Linked DNA regions of Homo sapiens. The protein of the gene in region 6 interacts with the protein of the main gene of each other region in a biochemical or structural test. Each region holds a gene or a part of one and is shown on either strand. Other genes may lie near its edges. The genes, in order: EIF2A, RBBP8, TOP2A, HNF4A, UBE2D4, RNF4 and UBE2B.

Region 1 (3,500 bases), on a different chromosome or scaffold from region 6:
AATTCAAGAATTATCAGCAAGACTATACTGATATAGCAACCAGCTGTTAAAAATCTGCCCTTTCTAGGATGGGCACAGTGGCTCACGCCTGTAATCCAAGCACTTTGGGAGGCTGAGGTGGAAAGACTGCTTGAGCTCAGGAGTTTGCGACTAGCCTGGGCAACATGGCAAAACTCGGTCTCAAAAAAAAAAACCAAGCCAAAACCAAACCAAAAAAACCTACTCCCATTTCCTGCTTGAAAAACATAGCGATAACCTATCTTTACAAAAATAAAAAAATTAGTTGGGAATGGTGGTGTACATGTACAGTCCTAGTTACTTGGGAAGCTGAGGCAGGATTAGTTGAGCTCAGGGTCTGGGGTTGCAGTGAGCCGTGATCATGCCTCTGCACTCCAGCCTAGATAACAGAGTGAGACAGAGTGTCTCAAAAGAAACAAAAACAAAACATCCAAAAACCCTACCCCACTGCTACAGTCTGACATATTGGTGTTTCCCTCAAATTCATAGTTTGGGACCTAATACCCAATGTAATAGTATTAAAAGGTGGGGCATTTGGAAAATGATTAAGTCATGAGGATTCCACACTCAAGAATGAGATTAGTAGCTTTATAAAAGAGACCAAAGAGAGCTCCACTGCCCCTTCCACCATGGGAGGACACACAGAAAGAAGGTGCCATCTATGATGAACGGGTTCTCACCAGATACCAAATCTGCCAGCGCCCCAGCTTCTAGAACTGTGAGCAATAAATTTGTTTATGAATTACCTAGTATAAGGTAGCAGCCTGAATGGATTGAGACATGTACTCTACCTGAATTGCAAAAATGTGATCACCATAACTTCACTAACCAGACATCCCCAGCCCAGCCAATCACATTATCACCATGAGCTATACAATATCACAATTTGTCAATTATTTACACTGGTGTGGCTTTTCAACTACGTAATCAAGTAAGAAACTATTTTGGAAATATCCCATTATTTGGGTACTTCTGGTATTTCGATTCCCAGTTAAATAATTTCATATAGTACTATAATACTGAGTGCCCAAATGGCTTTCTAGTCATGTAATTTCCAGCTTCTCTTAGTAAATACATGCTTCAAGGAAAGCAAACTACACCACTTCACACAAGTGCCACCAAAAGGGTCTACAGCAAGTAACATGCTTACATAATACCATTAGTGTCTCAGGTTATGATGTCAAGTCCAGTTTCTTTTGTCACCCATCATATAGACAGGATTACTTAGAAATTCATAGGCAAAGACAAAAGAAAGATATTCTGCCTATTTAAGTCTAACTCCAACTACATTTTATAACGTAAGAGCCAAGGTTTTTTGTGCTTTTTTTCTTTTTTTTTCGAGTCATGGTCTTGCTCTGTTACTCAGGCTGAAGTGGTACAATCACAGCTCACTGCAGCCTCAACCTCCCAAGCTCAAGTGATCCTACCATCTCAGCTTCCCAAGCAGCTGGGACTACGGGGTACACGCCATTGTGCCCAGCAAAAAATTTTTCATAGAGATGGGGGTCTCACTATGTTGCCCAGGCTGGTCTCGAACTGGGCTCAAGCAATTCTCCCACGTTGGCCTCCCAAAGTGCTGGGTTACAGGCATGAGCCACCACACCTGGTCACAGTCAAGTATTTAGGACCACAATTCTTTAAACTTTAAGGCTTAAAGCTAACTTAACTGCCTTTTTTTTTGGAGATGGAGTCTCTCTCTGTCGCACAGGCTGGAAGGCTAGAGTGCAGTGATGCGATCATGGCTCACTGCAACCTCCACCTCCCAGGTTCAAGTAATTCTCCTGCCTCAGCCTCCTGAGTAGCTGAGATTATAAGCCATGGCCAACTAATTTTTGAATTTTTAGTAGAGACAGGGTTTCACCACGTTGGCCAGTCTGGTCTTGAACTTCTAACCTCAAGTGATCCACTCGCCTCAGCCTCCCAAAGTGCTGGGATTACGGGCGTGAGCCACTGCGCCCGGCCATAACTGACTATTTGTTTTGTTATGAGATTAGTGCCCCAAATACCTGCTTTGCAGCTTTCTTAGCTTCATGCTTCCTTTGATTTTTAAGAGCTGTTTTTGATAATGGCTTATCGTTTCCTGATTGTGGTTTCATATTCTGAGGTGGTTCCTCTTCATGCTATGGAAAATGTAAAATAATTTTGAAATGGAGTCCATGTTGTAAACACCTACAACAACAAATTATACACTTCTGCTAATATAGGATAAACTTATTTTATCAAATTTAAGATCATTAGCAAAGATTATTTTGAAACTCATTGGTAGTGGCACACTCCAACTGTCAGGATGGATTTAATTAGGGTCTTCCTATTAGTTCCTATATCTTTCAATCATATCAGAGCTGGCAAAATTCACTTTAGTTTTGTTCAAACAGAATTTTTCTTAGCACTACTACAGACACATGATTCTTATGAAAACTAGATACCAACAACAGCTTCTTCTGAGGCCTTTTTGGTTCTAACTATTGTCAACAGAAACCCAGTTGCCTCGCTTGTTTTCTTCACACAAAGAATTACTTGCTAGATCTTTACTTGTAAAATCAGAAATTAGAAGATTAAAAATAAAAGCAAATGAAAAAACAAGAATAGATTATAAGAAAATAAATGAAATAGAAAGGAGTAATTAACTAGATAATTACAAATCTGGGATTGACATATGAAGAGACCAAAAAAAAATTACATGGCTTGTCAGATTACACAATGAAGACAATCATTTCCAACATCAGATATTCATGTAACCATGTAACAACTATATTCCACAATAGAAAAGATGGTGAATTATAGATTCAATGTATCTCCAGAACAGTTTTAGACAACATACAGTATAAGTGATGGCACTACAACTCTCTATCAGATTCAGGTACTTACTGATTTCTATCTATATTGCTATTATTTTAATGTTAACTGTCTCTTAGACTGTACCATAACTCAGCACATCAAAAGTACCAGCTCTCCATGAAGTTTCTTGAGTACTAGGTCTCAGATCCGCATTTTACTTATAAGTTCTATATGGAAATGAGCAGAGCTCAAACACTTAAGATGCAGAGTAATAAATAAGAAACCATAAAGTGACCTTATCTTAGCAAATGCATTAACTATTTCAGGTCATCAAAGTTCTGGGTATGTTCATATTCTACTTGAAACAAACTGAATATTATGAGAACCCACATTTGTAGAACAGCAGACAAATTTGGAGTGCAAGGCTCTTTCATTTCATTTTTATCCATGTTGCATAAAATGCTACTTAAGTTATACAATATTTGCTGAACATTTGTTTTATACATAATATGAAAATTCTTTCAATAGTGGGCTCTTCTGTAGTAGTTTACTTTGGCCGAAAAGTTTCTGCTCAGAACTTTGATGAAAAATGATACAAGAAGAAAAGATAAGTTACAAGTCTCTTCCACGCTTATGAGCATCATGTAGCCACTGAGAGCCTTTCACTTGAGACGAAAAAAATCCACACAACTACTATAAATCAT
Region 2 (3,500 bases), on a different chromosome or scaffold from region 6:
TTCTTTCCTCTTGCTTTCTACATTATGTGCACATTGAGCTCATGGCTCTCGTTCATGTAATTCCAGCTTTCCCTTCTCCAACATAAGTACACAGTACTGCATGCCTTTCCTCAGACTGTGGGTTCTCTCCTGATCTTGTCTGCAATTTGAAATACTTTTAATTTCACCTGAAGTGCTATTGACTATACTTTCTACTTCACTTCTCACATAGTATTTCCCACTGGGTACTGTAATCATTCGTGTACTTATCTACTTAGGTTTGGAACATTAGATGCAAGGGATTACATCCCTTAGAGCTTCATGTTTGTGTTCTACTGTAACTCCATGCCATGTAGTAAATGTTTTAATACTCATTGAATTGATTTTCTTTCCATTGTCATTCTTCTCTAGGAATGATCAACAGCATCAAGCAGCTGAGCTTGAATGTGAGGAAGACGTTATTCCAGATTCACCGATAACAGCCTTCTCATTTTCTGGCGTTAACCGGCTACGAAGAAAGGAGAACCCCCATGTCCGATACATAGAACAAACACATACTAAATTGGAGCACTCTGTGTGTGCAAATGGTAAGAGTTGGAGTTGTATTTTAGTTCTCTGGTTTTGTAAACCAGTGTTCATCTACTAGTTTTTATGTTATTCAATCTAGTGATAAGAAGATAGTCACTATTCTGGTATCCCATGGTACAACTATGAGTTTAACTTCTATTTGTAAAGTGACTGAGAAGGCGTTTTCTGCCCGTGTTATGTATAGATACGTGTCATCTATATGACATGTAAATATACCATATTTTATAAATGTAGTAAATAGTTTCTTTTTTCTTTTTATTTTAAAAATATTCCTATGTGTATATATCCAAGTGGGATAGAAGGAAAAAGGAAAGGAACTTAATGTTAATTTCTACCTCCTGTGTACCAGGTATTATGCTGAGTGATTTGCATGTATTATTGCTATGTTTTAATTCTCGTAACAGGCTTGTGAGATAACTATCAGCTCTTTTGTTTTATAGATGAGGAAAGATATGTTTAGAAAGGTTAACTCACTCAAGGTCAGCTATTATGTAGATGAGTCAAAATTCAAATACAGATCTTCTTAGCTCTGAACTTTCCTACTCTCCAGGTCTTGCCACATGGGTACTCCTGCCATTGGAGCTGTCTGTAACTGGCTATTTTTATTTGTTGTAATTTGTAGGAGTTAGTGGTAATCAAGAAATGGTGTTATAATATGTACACTTTGTGGCTTTTCAGTGACATGTTTCTAATTCCAGCCTAGTTTATCATTTCTGCTAAATGCTTTAAAACTGTCTTTTCACATAGTCCCAAAATTTGTTATGTGCCATGATACAAGTATTACTTTTAGTATTAATCTAAAGCAAACAGTAAAGACTTTAATTTTTAACCTAAACTATTTGCAACAAGGAAAGCATGGGGGACGGGGGATATATATGTACTACTATATTTGTATAATACAAATAAATTGTTGACAGTAAATATGCCTTTAAACAAATAAGCAGATCTTATTCTTAGATGTTGGAACATTGACAGTTTTCCCCCACTTTATAAGCGTTTGTATCACCATCTAGTGGAAAACAAAAGAACTGTTAAAAATCCTACACTTAAATAGGAGCTAAGTTAAAATGTAAAATCATAGATCTAAAATGAATATCCGTTGACCTTTTAGTTTGCTATCAGACAGGACATGAATCATTAAAGATAATCACTGCATAATTTACATCAGGTTTAAATTCACAAATAAGAATATCTAGAAAACAATTCCATATTAGGAAAGTCTTTTGTAACCAATATAAATGCTTCTGGTTTATTTCTTCTTTGTATGAAAGCAGCATGTAACTATTTAGAAATTTAATTCACTTGCTTTAACCTTGTTCTGATCATTTTTTACTTGGAATCTGAAATTTGGTTTTAAGATGTACGATAACCTTGAGCCATACAAATGATTTTAAAATAATTTTAAGGCCGGGCACGGTGGCTCACACCTGTAATCCCAGCACTTTGGGAGGCCAAGGTGGGTGGATCACGAGGTCAGGAGATCGAGACCATCCTGGCTAACATGGTGAAACCCTGTATGTACTAAAAATATAAAAAATTAGCTGGGCGTGGTGGCACACGCGTGCAGTCCCAGCTACTCGAGAGGCTGAAGCAGGAGACTTGCTTGAACCCTGGAGGTGGAGGTTGCAGTGAGCTGAGATCATGCCACTGCACTCCAGCCTGGGCAACAGAGCAAGACTCCATCTCAAAAATAATAATAATAATAATAATTTTAAATGCTTTAATGACTAATTAGTCCTGTTCTCTAACTTCCCTTGCTTGCTTATTTTAAGGTTTATAATGCTTTTTAATATTACTCTCAAGTTATAAATAGTAAAACCATTTCACTTTACCTTGTCCTTATTTTGGTTTTCTTTGAACTAAATCTTTAAATATTGGAGTGATTTCTGATAAAGCATGCTTCAGAGTTTCCTTCCCGAAAATAGAAACTCTAAAACAAAGATCATGGAGATAAATGATATAGTATACATTAGATTGATTGATCATTTGTTTATTGATTGATTATTTGAGATAGGGTCTCACTCTGTCATCCAGGGTGGAGTACTGTGGTGTGATCTGTAGCTTACTACAGCCTGGAACTTTTAGGCTCAAGAGATCCTCCTGCCTCAGCCTCCCAAGGTGCTCAGATTACAGTCATGAGCCACTGTGCCCAGCCCAGTATACCTTTTTAAATTAACCTGCTGATTTGTAACAAATATAAAAAGAGAAGTAACACTAAAATGTTACTACTCTAGGCAATTTGGGTTAGAAGAAGCTGTCTGTTCTAGTCCCCTCTCTCCCAATGTCTTAACTTAAACAGCTTTGTTTCTTAGTGAAATTAAAGGAGCTTACTTCTTAGAATATGATAATTATGTCAATAAAACAGTACTTATATTGGATTTAAATACAGATAATACATAAAAATTTTAAATATGAATAAATAAAAATAATTTGATAATGCTTTTCATCATCATTGTTTATTGTGTAATCTCTTATTTTTTTCTCCCCTTAGAAATGAGAAAAGTTTCCAAGTCTTCAACTCATCCACAACATAATCCTAATGAAAATGAAATTCTAGTAGCTGACACTTATGACCAAAGTCAATCTCCAATGGCCAGTAAGCAAGATACTGAGATTACTTTACAAGTTTAAAATTGTGGTTATTGGTGGGTAACAGTGACCCACAGTCTAACTTAGACAATATTTTAAAGGTATTTTCCATATAATTTTGTTTATATTACTAGTTTACTATCTTTTTCATATTGGAAAGTAATGTTATCCTATTCATATAAATATCCCTAATCATATTAATATAAATTACTAATAATTTTAAGTAAAGAAGGCTTTACTGTGATTTACTTATTTGTTCAACAAATATTGAAGCATCTGTTGTATACCAGGCACTGAATAAAACAAAGCCCTTGTCCTCATGGAGCTTATGATCTAGTTGAGGG
Region 3 (3,500 bases), on a different chromosome or scaffold from region 6:
CAATTTCACGCACATCAAAGTTGGGGATTTTGCAGGACCACCCAGTACCGATTCCTTCAGCACCATTTATCAGCACCATGGGAATAATAGGAATGTACCATTCAGGCTCAACACGCTGGTTGTCATCATATAAAAACTTCAACGTGTGATCATCTTTTGGTGGAAATAACAATCGAGCCAAAGAGCTAAAGAAAAGAAACAAAGAATGTTATTTTACAAAAATACTGAATTTCACACTTAACTTTTATGGAAAGGACATGTATTATACATGAAAATTATCTTGGTTTTACTTGCTGACTAATATACATTTAACAATATTTATTGAGCACTTGCTATGTGTCACGCACATGGACATAAAGTCTCAATCCTCAAGGAGCTCACAGTCCAGTAGAAGTTTGCAATTAACACATATTTTGTTAGGTGGTGGGATAAACAAGAGAAGAAAAAGTGGGAAAGTGACTGAAGAGGTGCTAAGGAAAGTTAAGCCGTTTCTGATAGGAAAACATTTGAGCAGAGAAAAGACACTGAGGGCGCCAGGTGCAGTAACTCGCGCCTGTAATCCCAGCACTTTGGGAGGCTGAGGGAGGCAGATCACCTGAGGTCAGGAGTTCAAGACCAACCTGGCCAACATGGTGAAACCTCATCTCTACTAAAAATATAAAATTAGCTGAGCATGGTGGCGTGTACCTGTAATCCCAGCAACACGGGAGGCTGAGGCAGGAGAATCACTTGAACCCAGGAGGCAGAGGTTGCAATGAGCCGAAATTGCGCCACTGCACTCCAGCCTGGGCAAAAAGAGCAAAACTCCATCTCAAAAGAAAAAAAAACAACAAAAAACAAACTGAGGGACTGAACCATGTGGATATCTAGAGAAAGAGTGTTGCAGGCAAAGGAACCAGTAAGTAAAAGGCCCTGAAGAGGAAATGTGCTCGGTATATTTGAGTATAGGCCAAGGACAGTGTGGCTGGAGAGGAGATGGTATGAGAAGGAATCAAAAGACATGGAAGGTGGGGACACGGATCACATAATGTCTGGTTAGCTAAAATAGGTCTTTAGATTTTACTCTGAGCAGTTGAAGGTTCTGAATCAGAGTGACTTATTTTTTAAAAAATAATTGGCTGCTTTAAGAAAAGATGATATGTTACAATAGTTTAGATGAGATGGGGGTGGCTTAGTATTTTTCCAATGCAGATCCTATAGGATTGGCTGAGGAACTGGATGTTAAGTATCAAGCAAAGGAGTCAAGGGTGACAAGGTTTTTAGCCTGAGCAATTAGAAGGATGGCATGGCATTCCATTTACTGAGACAGGAAAACTAAGGATTTGGTTTTAGACTTATGTTTGAGATACTTAACTAGATATCCAAGTGGGAAATGTTAAGAGGGCAGTCAGACATAAAAGTTGGGAGTTCAGGGGAGAGACCAAGACTGGAGATTTAAAGGTATAGAACGGATGAATGGGAGATCATTTGGGAATTGAGTGTAGGCATTGGAAAGAGATCTGATGAAGGAGCCCTGGAATGGGCCAGTATTTAGAGGTTGGGAAGGTGAGAAGGACCCAGCAGAGAAAGCTAATAAGGTAGAAGAGAACCAGAAGAGTCTACAGTCATAGAGGCCAAATAAAGAGTTTCAAGAAGGATGGAGCAATTAGTAACTGTTTGAATGCCACTGAAAGGGTGACTGGGATGACAGCTGAAAATTGACCATTCATAATATACTTTCCATAGGCTTGTAAAGGAGTAAAATTTCAATTGTGATATTTAGGAAGAATCAAAGTCTCCTTTACTCAGTCCCAAGCTCTACATCAGGATTTCTCAACCTTAGCATAATTGACATGTTGCACTGGATAATTGTTATGGGGGGGCTTTCCTGTATAAGCCTCACCCCTGGCCTCTGCCACTAGATGCCAGTATCTTCTGATTAACTGAGTTTTTGTATTTTTGGTGAACTAAATCTCACATTGTTTCAAAACTGGAAATGGCAAGTCACTAGAAAGTGAAAGCATACCTACCTGAGCATTGTAAAGATGTATCGTGGACTAGCAGAATCCTTGCCACCATGTAGCCTGGTACCAAACTGACCAATGGGCTGCAAGAGGTTTAGATTATTGCTACCCACAAAATTCTGAGCCAAATTGATAATGGTCATCATTAGTGACATCTGTGGGGAAAAAAAGATTCATTAAGCTGAGGCTTTTACTAATACAAATACATTATGACTTAACCTCACTATAATCCTGTAACATTTTGTGAGGTCTAGTTGTTTAGTGACTTTCCTCAGATTAATAGATGGCAGAAATAGTACTTGAACCTACAACTTCTGGCTCCAAGTTTAGGGCTGCCGTCCAACAATTTCTATTAAATCCCACTCAACTTTGAAGGCATAGTTCTTCTCCTTATCCTCAGCAAAATGAAATATTTCCTCCTTTGTGTTACAATGCTGTGTTCATTTCTATTCTAGCATGTATCACTTTATTCTATAGCTGTGTGTGTATTGGCCCTCTGGCTAAATTGTTATTATATCTTGGGGATAAGGAACATATTTTTATTTATTTTTGTATACCTGGTACATGGTAGGCATTCAACAAATGTTCGTTGGGTGAAAATTTATTGTATCCCTACTATATTTTGATTGAAAGCAACAAGACAACCATTATATTTAAAATTCTAGAAACCTGTAGGCAATCTAGTTCTTTAAAACTGTTTTACATAATTAATGCAAAAAGTAATCACAAAACATTGGTGTAAAGTCAAACAATTCAGACACATATAAAAAGTGAAAGTTGCCCTTTCCAGTTCTCAGGGGTAACTAAAGTGAACAATTTGGAACATATCCTTGTAGACATTTTTAGTTATTGTTCTGTCTCTTTTTTTCCTCACCTGAGAATAGACCCTGGATATTCCTCAGTGTCAGTGCACACAGTTTTACTGAAGTTACAGCACTGATTCCATGCATACATGTGTCACAATTTATTATAACAATTTTCAAATCAGTGGAGGTCTAAATTTTGACATCACAAAGTTATAATAAACATACTAAGCATTTTTTAATGTAGACCTTTGCAGACTTATGAATATCCCTGCAGGAATATTACTTTCAGAAATCAAAGGGCAAGCAGTTTTATTCTTTCACAGGTTTTACCAACTTGTTCTTTACTATGAATATATGAGCTTATACTTTCACCAAATCTGTTTTGAGAATGACTCTGCAGGGATTTCTGATATAATGCTTTCTGGAAACATGGATTGTGTGTTTACCTCACCATGATGATAAGAAGACATTTCAGCCACTGATCCAGCTAATTGGGCAACCTTTACTTCTCGCTTGTCATTCCGTTTGAAGCAAGTAAACAAAACCTTTCTCTGACCTGGTTTCAAACCTTTAAAATGAAATAAGAGCAAACGTAAGTATCCTCAATTTAACCAATTTTGGAATTTGATTTCCATCTTACAATGAAAACAGACTAACAAATTGGAACTCACCATCCACCATAGAAGGGATA
Region 4 (3,500 bases), on a different chromosome or scaffold from region 6:
GCTTGGCACATAGTAAGCACTATATCAGTGTTCATGAAATAAAAACTTTTCCACATAGGAAAACTCTCGGAGCAGAGGACTTCCAGGCTCCTTGCACAAGCAGACACTGCCGCATCTCATTTCTGCCATCGCAGACTCCCAGGTGTCCCCAGGAGTGCAGCCCCCTCCACTTGGTGAATTATTCCTGGAGATGGGGATAATTGTTAAGCCACGTGGGTGCCCTTTCTCCCTCGGCCTCTCCTCCCCCGACCCCCGGGGAGAGCTGACCCCCACAGCTCCTGGCCATTCAGCAGGAGGCTGGGGAAGTAGCTCCCACCTCTGAGGCAGGATGGGCTGGGGGCTGTCAGCTCTATCATCTCCCCTCTGAGGTCAGCCGAGCACCTCTATTCCACAGATGAGGACACTGAGGCTTAGAGAGGAAAAGTGGCTTCCTGGTGTCATCGCACTGCTTCCCGTGAAGCAGAGCCATGGGTTTATGGTCCAGGCTTGCTGGGCTACTCCAGCCAGTGCCACACATGTTGAGGTGTCTGCTGGGCCTCTAATGAACAAGGAGCCACCCAGGGCTGCTGCTCCATTGGGGTGGGGAGAGGACGGGGGAGAAATATCCTTGGAGCCTTTCAGACACCAGCCCAGGATGTACTCAAAACACTTCAGAGGACAACTTCACATAACCCCAATTCAGACCACTTCAAACTCCAGTGAGGAATGTGGGGACCCTGCTTACAGATGCTCAGAGCCCTTGAGATGACCCATGGTGGGGCCAGGCCCTTTACCAGGGCTAAGCACCCAGGCACCTCATCTTATTTATCCTCTGGCCAGCCCTGGGAGACAGACACTATTATTTATTCCCATTTTATAGGTGAGGAAACTGAGGCTCAGAGAGGAAATTGCCTTGCCACATTCACACAGGTTGGAAGGATCTATGCCGGATTTGAGCCCAGATCTTTCTGGTTCCAGAGCTGGAGGTGGTCTTGTCTTTGGGACTCCCAGTTCAGGGGCTTGGCCTCTGCCTCAGGAGCACACAGTTCCTGGGCTTGGAAAAAGTGATGGGGGCGGGGAGCAGCCCAGGGCAGGGCAGTGGTCCTCGTGGGGCCACACAACACTCCACCTAGTGCAGCAGCAGCTTGTTTGCTATCTCTGGTGTGTTTTTGCCTTGCGCTCCTGGCGTGGTCCTCAGACAGGCCTAAAAGCCGTCCAGCCAGCAGGCCTGGGGGAATGAAGCCTGTTTTGTAGAAGATACAGAAGCCAGGATAGGGGAGGTGACATGCCCAAGGTCACACGTGACTGGACGGCAGGGGCAGGTGAGCACCTGCTGAGCTGACAACAAGCAGTGCCCAGCAGCTGCCTCCTCACCCTAGCTGAGCTGACCACAAGATTCCAGACCTCAGCTGGAGCTGCAGCCTCATACTGGCTGAGTGGCTCCAAGACACAGAAGGAAGCAGGGTGGCAGGCTGACCTCAGCCAGCTGCCTGCCCCCTCTCCTCTGAGGCTGGCCTGGGACCGATGGGGCTCTTCCCTCCAGGAGGGGTTTCCGGGCCTCCTCTTTTCCCCTACCTCCCTGTGGAGAACTGTCCACCCCTCCAGATATGCTCCAGTGATGTCGGAGGGGATGCCTCAATCTGGCGAGACGCAGCGGCAACAAAATCTGCTCAGAGACAAACGGACATGTTGCTGATATGAATCTCACTTGGTGAGTGGCAACAACAGAGTCCTGCATTTGGGTCTGTGCAGTCGTGCACACCAGAGACCGCTGACCCCCGCCCGCAGCACAGGGAACTGCATATATACACAGCAGGTACAAATATGGGCACACGACAAAACGCCCATACAGGATAAAGATGCAGGAAGAACAGGGCACTCCAACAGGTCCGCATGCACAAACGCATGTGCTCTATGACCCGCACACACAGCACACATGTACAAACATCCACAGACACAAGTACACACACATACACACTTACATACATAAGCAAGATCAACACGGGCAACTCCTAAGACACAAACACAGACCCACTCAATGAATACAAAGGAAAATAGACCCAGAACTCACACACAGAGACAAATGAACACACATATGCAAATGGGTTCCTGAAGGCATCACCCCACCCATACAACCTACATGGAAACTCACTATCACACACGAACGCACACACAACACACACAGTGCTGAGTTGGCTTCGTAGTTAGCAAAACTTCCCTGAGAGCTCCATTTTCCCTAAGTGCCAATTTCATTTCCCTAGGAAAGTCCCAAAGACACCGAGAAATGCGGTTATGTCTCCAACCACCATCTCCAGGGATACAACATCCCTTGCCGTCTCTCTGAACCTAGGCCCAAGGGGTTCACGAAGGGGCCGTGCTGGGCTGAATCGCTGGAGCTGGGCACCAAGGGGGAGCTCACCATCACGTCACTGTGCCAAGCGCCAAGCAGAGCCACTGTGAGGCAGTGAGGACTGGAAGGGCCTGGGAGGAATAGCCGGGATCGACTTTTGCTGGAAATTGGCCCTTGCAGGCCTCCCTTCACCCAGAATGCCTGTGATCACTGTGCCTGGGCACATGGGCTTCACTTGGCAACACCTGTGCTGGCCTGTAGGACCAACCTACCATTTTGTATCATTCTCCTCCCACCCCAAAGTTGAGTGCCAAAGATCTGCTCCTGGACCCAGGCACACCTGCCCCCACTGGCACACCTGGGCACATCTGCCCCCACCTACCATTGCCCATCGTCAACACCTGCACATTCTCAAATTCCAGGGTGGTGTAGGCTGGGTCCAGTGCAGCACTGTAGTCGGCCATGTCCATGTCGACGAGGGTTTTGGAGAGTCGCATTCTCCCTGCCTCCACGCCGCGGCCACCTGCCCTACCCTGGGCGCCCACCCCGAAGGCCCCCGCCCTCCGCCCTCCCACTGCCTCCTCCCAGTGCCCTCTCTGCCTTCCTTTCAAACCGTCCTCTGGGAAGATCTGCTGGGAGTCTTGGCCTAGCCTCTGTGAAGGGGTGGAGGCTCTGCCGGGGAGGGGTGGGGGTTAATGGTTAATCGGTCCCCCGCCGGTGGATAGGCTGGGCGGGGCTGCAGGGATTTGGCTGTTTGTTGGTTTCTGGCTGACACCCGGGGTGCTAATTACAACTGCTGGGGCCCTAACTCACCGATGTTCAGTTATCAATTGTACAAGGCAGGCATCATGACTCACGGGCACTCATTTGACCCTTGACTCACCCACCCCTCCAAGCCATTGTCACCCCAAGTCAGGCATTCTAACTGATACTATCAGGCACTGACAGCCTACCTCCGAGATCCCCTAATTCAATAACTTCCCAAATCATTGACTTCTACCCTCAATGCTTTTGCAGAGATAAGGCTGCCCCATGGCCCACGATTTAGAAACCTAAATCCCAGGCCCCAGATGCCAATCTTCTGGATCCTTGTTCTGGGAGCTCCCTTCCAGTTCCCCCGCAGTTTCCCGGTTCCCCTGGGAGCAGAATGGACTGGAAGTTTGGGAGGGCC
Region 5 (3,500 bases), on a different chromosome or scaffold from region 6:
TTGTTACATAGGTATACATGTGCCATGTTGGTTTGCTGCACCCATCAACTCATCATTTACATTACGTATTTCTCCTAATGCTATCCCTGCCTCAGCCCCCACCCCCCGACAGGCCCTGGTATGTGATGTTCCCCGCCCTGTGTCCCTGTGTTCTCATTGTTCAATTCCCATCTATGAGTGAGAACATGCAGTGTTTGGTTTTCTTTTTTTTTTTTTGAGACAGAGTTTCGCTCTTGTTGCCCAGGATGGAGTGCAATGGCGTGATCTCGGCTCACCGCAACATCCACCTCCCAGGTTCAAGCAATTCTCCTGCCTCAGCCTCCCGAGTAGCTGGGATTACAGGCCTGCACCACCATGCCCGGCTAATTTTGTATTTTTAATAGAGATGGGGTTTCTCCATGTTGAGGCTGGTCTCGAACTGCTGACCTCAGGTGATCCGCCTGTCTCAGCCTCCCAAAGTGCTGGGATTACAGGTGTGAGCCACCATGCCTGGCCCAGTGTTTGGTTTTCTGTCCTTGTGATAGTTTGCTGAGAATGATGGTTTCCAGTTTCATCCATGTCTCTGCAAAGGATGTGAACTTATCCTTTTTTATGGCTGCATAGTATTCCATGGTGTATATATGCCACATTTTCTTAATCCAATGTATCATTGATGGACATTTGGGTTGGTTCCAAGTCTTTGCTATTGTGAATAGTGCCGCAATAAACATACATGTGCATGTGTCTTTATAGTAGCATGATTTATAATCCTTTGGGTATGTACCCAGTAATGGGATCACTACTGAATCAAATGGCATTTCTAGTACTAGAGGAATACCTTGAGGAATCACCACACTGTCTTCCACAATGGTTGAACTAATTTACACTCCCACCACCAGTGTAAAAGCATTCCTATTTCTCCACATCCTCTCCAGCATCTGTTGTTTCCTGATTTTTAATGATCGCCATTCTAACTGCTGTGAGATAGTATCTCATTGTGGTTTTGATTTGCATTTCTCTGATGACCAGTGATGATGAGCATTTTTTATGTGTCTGTTGGCTGCATAAATGTCTTCTTTTGAGAAGTGTCTGTTCATATCCTTTGCCCACTTTTTGATAGGGTTGTTTGATTTTTTCTTACAAATATGTTTAAGTTCTTTGTAGATTCTGGATATTAGCCCTTTGTCAGATGGGTAGATTGCAAAATTTTTCTCCCATTCTGTCGGTTGCCTGTTCACTCTGATGATAGTTTCTTTTGCTGTGCAGAAGCTCTTTAGTTTAGTTAGATCCCATTTGTCTATTTTGGCTTTCGTTGCCATTGCTTTTGGTGTTTTAGTCATGAAGTCTTTGGGCCTGAGCTTTTCTGCTGATACATCAACAAAACATCACTGCTTTTTGCATAAAACTTCCTGGGCTTTTGAGTCCTTTCCACCACCCTTGTTATTCCTCAGAGCATACTGCTTTCAGGGAGATGGTATCAATCCCCCTATGTTCAGAATGAGAATCCAGCAGGGAATGGGTCAGGGAACTTCTGGGTGATCACTCACTCCCATATCCCATTAGAGTTTGGGAGTGGGGGTCTGGCTTAGCCTGCACTGTGGGGCCAGGTATGCAGCACACTCCAGGTACTGCCCAGCAGCAGCTGCTTCTGCTTTACTTGGTTCATTTCCCACACGTCCCTGTGGTTTGTCTGATTGGGGATCTCTTGTCTTTGCAGGTTGCTTTCACAACCAAAATTTATCACCCTAATATCAACAGCAATGGCAGCATCTGCCTTGATATCCTGCGGTCTCAGTGGTCTCCAGCGTTGACTGTGTCAAAAGGTAGAGATGCTGATGGCATGCTCTGTGTGCTCTTTTACACATGTTTTTACCCCAGCACTGACTGAGTGGAAATGGAAGCTCAGAGAAAGAAGTCACCTTTCCCAGGTCACATAGCCCTGTCCACTGCTGTGCCCTTAAGTGGATATCCTTACACGCCTACGAGGCAGCACCAGCAGAACTTTGTGCCCCGCTCCCTGGCGCTTCTCAGCAGTCAATTGCCCTGGTGTGCTCAAGACTGTCACATGGGTGCAAGAAGAAAATACTGATTCTACTTATATTTTTTTATCCAAAAATAAGAAAGGCAAATATTACATTACCTTCTCTGTTCCCTCATTTATTCATCTAATAAGCACAAAACGGACTGTGAGTCAGCCCTGAAGGAAGATACAGGGCATGCCTCCGGGGGCCTCGAAGTTGGTGGAGAAATCCTCCCTTCCCAAAATAAATGATGTTGAGCACATGTCTTTGGTTGAAGTTGAAGAAACCAGTCTAAACTGAGCTTAGAAATGCAGATATTCCTTCTGAATTAAGATGGGCTGTGCATGGGCTATGTATGCACGAGAGACCTGAATGTAGATGGTGCAGTATCCTGGCAGGTGGAGCGTGGGAGGATGGTGAAAAATCAACCCAAGAGAAACAGAGCCTGGCCTAAATTTTAAATTTTTCTGTAGAGGAGACAGGGTCTCACTTTGTTGCCCAGGCCATTCTCAAACTCCTGGCCTCAAGCAGTCCTCCCATTGTGGCCTCCCAAAGCACTGGGATTATAGGCGTGAGCCACTGTGCCCAGCCAAGTATCTTAAGAAAGGCAAACCTGCCCCTGTCATTTGTAGCTTTATGTGTGGGGACCTGTGGTCAGAACTTTGATGGACTCACTGAATCCAGTTTGTTTGGAATCATATGGTGAGTCGAAAGCAAAGCCAGGAATGAAAGTGTGCATTTCTCTCTGGGACCCCAAGAATCCAGGCACCACAATTCCTTCTGCTCCTCACCACAGCCCTAGTGGGTGATTCCCTTCCCCTAGGGTTGCTGAGAGCCACATTGAGTGCACATCTTAGAGACGGTGCTGGCACAGAGGAGGATGCATCTGCTTTGCAGTTAGAAGGACCTGGTTCAGAATTTCTTTATTTTTTTTTTGAGATCGAGTTTTGCTCTTGTTGCCCAGGGTGGAGTGCAATGGCGCGATCTCGGCTCACTGCAACCTCCACCTCCCAGGTTCAAGAGATTCTCCTGCCTCAGCCTCCTGAGTAGCTGGGATTACAAGCATGCACCACTATGCCTGGCTAATTTTGTATTTTTTTAGTAGAGACAGGGTTTCTCCATGTTGGTCAGGCTGGTCTTGAACTCCCGACCTCAGGTGATCTGCCTGCCTCGGCCTCCCAAAGTGCTGGGATTACAGGCAAGAGCCACCGCACCTGGTCCAGAATCTCATTTTAATCCATTTATTGGGTGTTCCAAGTCTGTGACCTTGGACAAGTTACTTGAATGCTCTGAATTCTTGTTTCCTTAACAGTAAACAGGACTCCTAGGACTAAATGCCAGAGGTTCATGATGTAGGGTACAGACAAGGATGGGAGGGCAGTTGGAGACTAAGATGGGGTGCTTCAGTGGAGAAGGGGAATGAGAACCAGGATGCACCCAGGAGGGAAGTATCCTAGCACAGCATGCCTCAGGCCACACAGTGAGGACCACCTCGGCTGA
Region 6 (3,500 bases):
CAGAGCAGTCCAAATCTCAAAGCTCCAAAATGATCTCCTTTGACTCCATGTCTCACATCCAGGTCACGCTGATCCAAGAGGTGAGTTCCCATGGCCTTAGGCAGCTCCACCCCTGTGGCTTTGCAGAGTACAGCCTCCCTCCCGGCTGTTTTCACTGGGTGGTGTTGAGTGTCTGCAGCTTTTCCAGGTGTACAGGGCAAGCTGTCAGTGGATCTATCATTCTGGGGTGTGGAGGACAGTGGCCCTCTTCCCACAGCTCTACCAGGTGGTGCTCCAGTAGGGACTCTGCTTGGGGGCTCCAACCCCACATTTCCCTTCCACACTGCCCTAGCGGAGGTTCTCCATGAGTGTCCCGCCCCTGCAGCAAACTTCTGCCTGGGCATCCAGGTGTTTCCATGCATCCTCTGAAATCTAGTGGAGGTTCCCAAACCCTCATTGTTGACTTCTGCGCACTCGCAGGCTCAACACCATGTGGAAGCTGCCAAGGTTTGGGGCCTGCACCTTCTGAAACCACAGCCTGAGTTCTACTCTATGTTGGCCCCTTTTGGCCACAGCTGAGACGGCTGGAACGCAGGGCACCAGGCCCCTAGGCTGCACACAGCAGGGGAACCCTGGGCCCAGCCCAGGAAACCATATTTTCCTCCTGGGCATCTGGGCCTATGATGGGAGGGGCTGCCATGAAGGCCTGTGACATGCCCTGGAGACATTTCCCCCCACTGTCTTGGGGATTAACGTTTGGCTCCCTGTTACTTATGCAAATCTCTGCAGCTGGCTTTAATTTCCCCTCAGAAAATGGAATTTTATTTTCTAGCACATTGACAGGAGGCTGCAAATTTTCCAAACTTTTATGCTCTGCTTCCCTTATAAAACTGAATGCCTTTAACTGTACCCAAGTCATCTCTTGAATGCTTTGCTGCTTAGAAATTTATTCTGCCAGATACCCTAAATCATCTTTCTCAAGTTCAAAGTTCCACAAATCTCTAGGGCAGGGGCAAAATGCGGCTAGTCTCTTTGCTGAAACATAACAGGAGTGACCCTTGCTCCAGTTCCCAACAAGTTCCTCATCTCCATCTGAGACCATCTCAGCCTGGATTTCATTGTCCATATCCTTATCAACATTTTGGTCAAAGCCATTCAACAAGTCTCTAGCGAGTTCCAAACTTTCCCACATTTTCCTGTCTTCTTCTGAGCCCTCCAAACTGTTCCAATCCCTGCCTGCTACCCAGTTGCAAAGCTGTTTCCAAATTTTCAGGTATCTTTTCAGCAGCATCGCACTCTACTGGTACCAACTTACTGTACCAGTATGTTTTCACGATGCTAATAAAGACATACCTGAGACTGGGCAATTTACAAAAGCAAGAAGTTTACAAAAGCCAGTTCCAAATGGCCGGGGAGGCTTCACAATCATGGCGGAAGGCAAGGAGAAGCAAGTAAGTCATGCCTTACATAGATGGCAGCAGGCAAAGAGAGCTTGTGTAGGGAAACTCCCCCTTATAAAAGCATCAGATCTCTTTTGTTTTTTTAGATTAAGTCTACTCTGTTGTCCAAGCTGGAGTGCAGTGGCATGATCTCGGCTCACTGTAATCTCCACCTCCTGGGTTCAAGCAATTCTCCTGCCTCAGCCTCCCAAGTAGCTGGAACTACAGGCATGTACCACCATGTCCAGCTAATTTTTGTATTTTTAGTAGAGACAGGGTTTCACTATGTTGGCCACACTCATCTTGAACTCCTAACCTCGTGATCCGCCCGCCTTGGCCTCCCAAAGTGCTGGGATTACAGGCATCAGCCACCGCCCCCGACCTAAAGCATCAGATCTCTTGAGACTTATTCACCATCATGAGAACAGCATGGGAAAGACCTGCCCCCAAGATTCAATTGCCTCCCACTGGGTCCCTCCCACAACATGTAGGAATTCAATGTGAGATTTGGGTGGGGACACAGCCAAACCATATCAGCACCTGTATTCCCATTTACTTGGGACACTGAGGCAAGAGGATTAATTTAGCTTAAAGTTTGAGGCTGTAGGCAGGGCATGGTGGCTCATGCTTATAATCCCAGCACTTTGGGAGGCTGAGGCGGGCAGATCACCTGAAGTCAGGAGTTCAAGACCAGGCTGGCCAACATAGTGAAACCCTGTCTCTAATAAAAATACAAAAATGAGCTAGACGTGGTGCTGCCCACCTGTAATCCCAGCTACTCGGGAGGCTGAGACAGGTGAATCACTTGAACCCAGGAGGTGGAGGTTGAAGTGAGTTGAGAAAGAACAAGATTCTGTCTTTAAAAAAAAAAAAAAGTTTTAGGCTGTACTGTGCTATATAATTGCACCTGCAAATAGCCACTGCACTCCTGCCCGGGAAACATAGGAAGACAACCTTCTCTTAAATTAAAAAAAAAAAAAAAAGAAAGAAAGAAAAGGGCTGGACGTGGTGGCTCACACCTGTAATCCCAGCACTTTGGGAGGCCGAGGTGGGTGGATCACAAGGTCAGGAGTTCGAGACAGGCTGGCCAACATGGTGAAACCCCATCTCTAGTAAAGATACAAAAAATTAGCCAGCCGTGGTGGCACATGCCTGTAATCCCAGGTCCTTAGGAGGCTGAGGCAGGAGAATTGCTTGAACCCGGGAGGCAGAGGTTGCAGTGCTGAGATCGTGCCACTGTACTCCAGCCTGGGTGACAGAGCAAGACTCCGTCTCAAAAAACAAACAAAAAACAAAAAAACACAGATGATCATGATGGGAGAATAGGAGAGAACATTTCTACCTGAGGCATTTTCAACTTTTCAACTTGCAAGAGTAGGAGGCGAGAACCAACACTGGAAGACATCAAGAAGGTACTTACAAGGGAAGCAAATTTTAGTGCAGGTAACACAGAATGCTGCCATATTTAGGAGCAGAATTTAGCAGTAGTTTGGCTAAAGTAAGAGGTGAGGTGTGGCAGACAGGGAAATGCCTAGGCCCTAGGACAACTTCCCTTAGCTGGTGAGAGGAGAAAACTTAGGAAAAATAACTTTGAGGAATACAATACAGTTACTGAGAATCAATAAATTTTCTTGAGGATAATTATCAGACTCCTCTGCGGTGAAAGCAAAAATAAAGATACTATTTTGTTTTTACTATTTGAAGTTTCTAGAAACATTGGCCATGTGCTTTCCCACCACACAAAAAAAGCAGATGACATAACAAAGCCTAACAAAAGGAACAAAGGTAGGAGTCAGGGGTGGGGTGAAGTTTCGAGCTCTGCTTACTAATTGTGTGACCTTGGGCAAGTGACCCTGATCTCCCAGTGCCTCAGGAAGAGTAAAATGGGGCTAACTACAACAACTATCTTATAGAGTGGTTCTGTAAGAGAGTAAGAAGTAGGGAATCACTCAACCATAGATATTAAATCATGAGTCTGGAGTCTGAGACCAGCCTGGACAAAAGGGCAAGACCCAGTCTACAAAACTTTGTTAAAAATTAGCCAGGTGTGGGCCAGGCGAGGTGGCTCACGCCTGTAATCCC
Region 7 (3,500 bases), on a different chromosome or scaffold from region 6:
TGGGACTAAAGGCATGTACCACCATGCCTGGCTAATTTTTTGTAGAGAAGGGCTCCCCCAGGCTGGTCTCAAACTCCTGGGCTCAAGTGATCCATGATCCACCTGCCTAAGCCTCCCAAAGTGCTGGCTATACAGGTGTGAGCTACTGCCCCTGGCCAACTGGCATCTTTTAAAATGCAAAGAATATAATCACTATTAGTATGGTTTGGTGCCACTGTCTAATGCCTTGATTTGTTCTAAGATACGAAACTACTTAGGTGTAGTTATAGCCACCATTGGTTTTGTACCATCAATGCAAAGGTCAACAGTCTTAGTATGATGAGATTTGATCGTATGGGTCCCCCGAGAGGGTCTCCAAGACCCCAAGGGGTTTATGGATCACACACTTGAGAACCCTTGATGTAGAGAAAAAAGGTAACGTCCTTAAGTACCTCCTTCAACTCCTTACCCCCCCCACAGATAATCACTGGTAACAGTTTGATATATAACCCTTTAACATAGACACACATGCATATATGTATTTGCTAAAAATGTGATGCTACGACAAACATTATCGTGCAGTTTTTTTGTCCTCTTAAGACAGTATGTCCAAATCTACCTTATTCTTTAACAGGTACATATTCCAGAATCCAGATACATCATAATTTGCTTAACCATTTCTCCTACTGGACATTCAGGTTACGTCCTTACAAACTGCTGCAGTCAGTATTCTCGGATAAATATTTTTGATGGATTAATTCTGAAGTCATTTTGTTAATGATAACAAAGATGTTTAATAATTTCTTAAAATCCAACACTACAATTGGGAAAAGTCTAAGTTCCTGGTTAAAATCAGTTTGATAAGTTCAATTATAAATTCGGTATTAGAACTAGTTTCCCATTTTCCTAGCCCCTGATGAAAATACCCAACTTGAGATGCCAAAGATTATGCAAAATGATAACTACTTATGGGTGTTAAATGCTAGTAGTACTTGAAACTACTGGCAGCTATGTATGTTTATGAAAAATTTCAGCTCAACACCCTGTCAATATCAAAGATAACAAAGTAAAAAAGCATGATTTACTCTTCTGGTGTTCACCTCAGAGATATCTTTAAGGCCACCTAAATTTAAACTATTCTCAACATAAACACTGCCATCCAGGCTTACAGTTATACAGGAAAATATTAAAGTAACCTTTAATATTGGTTACCAATGGAGGTGACCAAGCTGCTGTGGGAAGAAGTCCCTTATGAAGTATAAATTTTCCATAGCTTTACTTTTAACTTGGCCTATTAACCATAGAAAATGGCTTCAAGTAGATATGTTGGTGTTACAATTTTCTACTAAAAAGTAACCTCATAACACTATAGAAAACATAATGAGTATGACTTACCATCTTCAAAAGGTGTCCCTTCTGGTCTGAAAACAAGAAGATTTCTGATTAAAAGAAGTTTCTCATTCTGCTTTTTCTTGATTTTCAAGAATGGAAAGGATAAACTTCAACAGAAAAAGAGGGACTCATTCTGATGATTTGTGGAGTTTTAAGATAGAGTTTAGTAACACCTTAGCCCTGGATTTTCATAGACCCAGGCATAAAGTATTAACTTTCATTCTAAGCTTTCTTTTTAGGGTGGTTTTACCAAACCAAACAAAAAAACTTGCCCATAATTTTAGCACAAAAAAACTTTCATTAATACTGACCAGTCATTTTGTACATATGTGTATATATATATATATATTTTTTTTTTTTTTTTTTTTTTTTTTTGAGACGGAGTTTTGCTCTTGTCCCCCAGGCTGGAGTGCAATGGCATGATCTCAGCTCACTGCAACCTCCTTCTCCTGGATTCAAGTGATTCTCCTACCTCAACCTCCCGAGTAGGTGGGATTACAGATGCCTGGCTAATTTTTGTATTTTTAGTAGAAACGGGGTTTCACCATATTGGCCAGGCTGGTTTCGAACTCCTGACCTCAGGTGATCCACTCATCGCAGCCTCCCAAAGTGCTGGGATTTAGAGGCGTGAGCCACCGCACCTGGCCCATATGTATATTCTTAAGAGGAAAAGACATCTTTTCATTTTACAGCAATATGATGTAAAGCAATACTCTAGTTATGATGCTAAACCCAAGTGTCCTGCTTTCCAATGGAGCCATAACTCTTGTTCAAATAGGCTAAGCATAGTTGTCACCAAAAAGCCAGATTTGTTTGCTCAGATCCTTGTCCCCACATCCCAATTTCATCTTTCCTAAGCAGCAGCATAAAGTTTTTTTTTTTTTTTTTTTTTTTTTTTTTGAGACGGAGTCTCGCTGTCGCCCAGGCTGGAGTGCAGTGGCGCAATCTCGGCTCACTGCAGCCTCCGCCCCCTGGGGTTCACGCCATTCTCCTGCCTCAGCCTCCCGAGTAGCTGGGACTACAGGCGCCCGCCACCTCGCCCGGCTAATTTTTTTTTGTATTTTCAGTAGAGACGGGGTTTCACCGTGTTAGCCAGGATGGAGCATAAAGTTTAATTATTACTTGCAAGGCATATTCAGGATCTCAAAGCAGCAGGATAATATCCTGAAGGTGCCATGTATTCAACTCAAATTCAGAAGTACTTTATGAGGATGAACTTCACTCATTTTCCACTAGTCTTTAAATGTAGACTCTTGTAGCTGATTCTGTAGTGTCAGAATTCTGTTTATCAACATACTCCTTTTACTTTTTAATGCAAAACTCTAGTTTCAAAGGAATGAAAGAAAAAATAGATCAAGTCTAGAAAAACCAAAGAAAAAGCATAAGGAAATTTTAAATTAAAAAGCATATACGCAATATACATAGTAGGTAAAATTTACAACTGCTTCTCAAATGGCTGCATTCTGTTATTTCACACTGGGCTGTGAATCATTTTCGCTTAAATTCTTGCCACAGTGGAAGTTCTTAATATTTTTGGTTCCAAACCTTTTAACAGCTCCAACAGAATGAGAGCATTTGCGTGATATGTTTTATATAAAGTAACTTATTGTTTCTCCTTTATTATTCCATTCCATTTAGTTTTGAATAGTATTTTAAAAGTAAAACCCCAAGAGATTATAAAACCATATGTAATAACATCAAAGAGCAAATAAACTTTATATAACTGCTGAAACTTTTTCCTTTTTTTTTTTGATACAGGATCTTGGCTCTGCTGGCTGCCCATGTTGGAGGGCAGTGGCACAATCATGGCACACTGCAGCCTCAAACTTCTGGGCTCAAGTGATCCTCCTGCCTCAGCCTTCCAAGTAGCTGGGACCACAGGTATGCACCACCATGCTCAGCTAGTTTTATACTTTTTGTAGAGACAAGGGCTCACTATGTTGCCCAGACTGGGCCAAAACTTTTTTTGGTGGGGAGGGGACAGAGTCTCACTGTCTCACTATATCGCCCAGGCTGGTGAACTCCTGGGCTCCAGCGATCCTCCCAGGCGTTGAGCTACTACTGTGCTGGGCCAAAACTCTAATTGAAATATTTTTTTTTTCTAATTTATCTTGCAGTTTTAGTCCTTA

The links.
Region 1: of the proteins of RNF4 (region 6) and EIF2A, one has a biochemical effect on the other in vitro, tested with the Homo sapiens proteins (one study listed by BioGRID).
Region 2: of the proteins of RNF4 (region 6) and RBBP8, one has a biochemical effect on the other in vitro, tested with the Homo sapiens proteins (one study listed by BioGRID).
Region 3: of the proteins of RNF4 (region 6) and TOP2A, one has a biochemical effect on the other in vitro, tested with the Homo sapiens proteins (one study listed by BioGRID).
Region 4: of the proteins of RNF4 (region 6) and HNF4A, one has a biochemical effect on the other in vitro, tested with the Homo sapiens proteins (one study listed by BioGRID).
Region 5: the proteins of RNF4 (region 6) and UBE2D4 form a complex in vitro, tested with the Homo sapiens proteins (one study listed by BioGRID).
Region 7: the proteins of RNF4 (region 6) and UBE2B form a complex in vitro, tested with the Homo sapiens proteins (one study listed by BioGRID).

Annotation. Positions count from the first base shown.
Region 1 is NC_000003.12:150,574,287-150,577,786, reverse strand, and holds part of EIF2A (eukaryotic translation initiation factor 2A), read right to left. Parts: intron 2,139-3,500; coding exon 2,025-2,138; intron 1-2,024. UniProt on the Homo sapiens protein: Functions in the early steps of protein synthesis of a small number of specific mRNAs. Acts by directing the binding of methionyl-tRNAi to 40S ribosomal subunits.
Region 2 is NC_000018.10:22,981,828-22,985,327, forward strand, and holds part of RBBP8 (DNA endonuclease RBBP8), read left to right. Parts: intron 1-390; coding exon 391-566; intron 567-3,058; coding exon 3,059-3,163; intron 3,164-3,500. UniProt on the Homo sapiens protein: Endonuclease that cooperates with the MRE11-RAD50-NBN (MRN) complex in DNA-end resection, the first step of double-strand break (DSB) repair through the homologous recombination (HR) pathway.
Region 3 is NC_000017.11:40,400,897-40,404,396, forward strand, and holds part of TOP2A (DNA topoisomerase 2-alpha), read right to left. Parts: coding exon 3,481-3,500; intron 3,378-3,480; coding exon 3,256-3,377; intron 2,159-3,255; coding exon 2,010-2,158; intron 186-2,009; coding exon 1-185. UniProt on the Homo sapiens protein: Key decatenating enzyme that alters DNA topology by binding to two double-stranded DNA molecules, generating a double-stranded break in one of the strands, passing the intact strand through the broken strand, and religating the broken strand.
Region 4 is NC_000020.11:44,400,699-44,404,198, reverse strand, and holds part of HNF4A (hepatocyte nuclear factor 4-alpha), read right to left. Parts: exon of another isoform or gene 2,827-3,500; coding exon of another isoform or gene 2,712-2,826; intron 1,646-2,711; coding exon of another isoform or gene 1,555-1,645; intron 1-1,554. UniProt on the Homo sapiens protein: Transcriptional regulator which controls the expression of hepatic genes during the transition of endodermal cells to hepatic progenitor cells, facilitating the recruitment of RNA pol II to the promoters of target genes. Activates the transcription of CYP2C38.
Region 5 is NC_000007.14:43,946,936-43,950,435, forward strand, and holds part of UBE2D4 (ubiquitin-conjugating enzyme E2 D4), read left to right. Parts: intron 1-1,696; coding exon 1,697-1,802; intron 1,803-3,500. UniProt on the Homo sapiens protein: Accepts ubiquitin from the E1 complex and catalyzes its covalent attachment to other proteins. In vitro able to promote polyubiquitination using all 7 ubiquitin Lys residues, but may prefer 'Lys-11' and 'Lys-48'-linked polyubiquitination.
Region 6 is NC_000004.12:2,475,606-2,479,105, reverse strand, and holds part of RNF4 (E3 ubiquitin-protein ligase RNF4), read right to left. Parts: intron 1-3,500. UniProt on the Homo sapiens protein: E3 ubiquitin-protein ligase which binds polysumoylated chains covalently attached to proteins and mediates 'Lys-6'-, 'Lys-11'-, 'Lys-48'- and 'Lys-63'-linked polyubiquitination of those substrates and their subsequent targeting to the proteasome for degradation.
Region 7 is NC_000005.10:134,374,569-134,378,068, reverse strand, and holds part of UBE2B (ubiquitin-conjugating enzyme E2 B), read right to left. Parts: intron 1,401-3,500; coding exon 1,375-1,400; intron 1-1,374. UniProt on the Homo sapiens protein: E2 ubiquitin-conjugating enzyme that accepts ubiquitin from the ubiquitin-activating enzyme E1 and transfers it to a E3 ubiquitin-protein ligase. In vitro catalyzes 'Lys-11'-, as well as 'Lys-48'- and 'Lys-63'-linked polyubiquitination.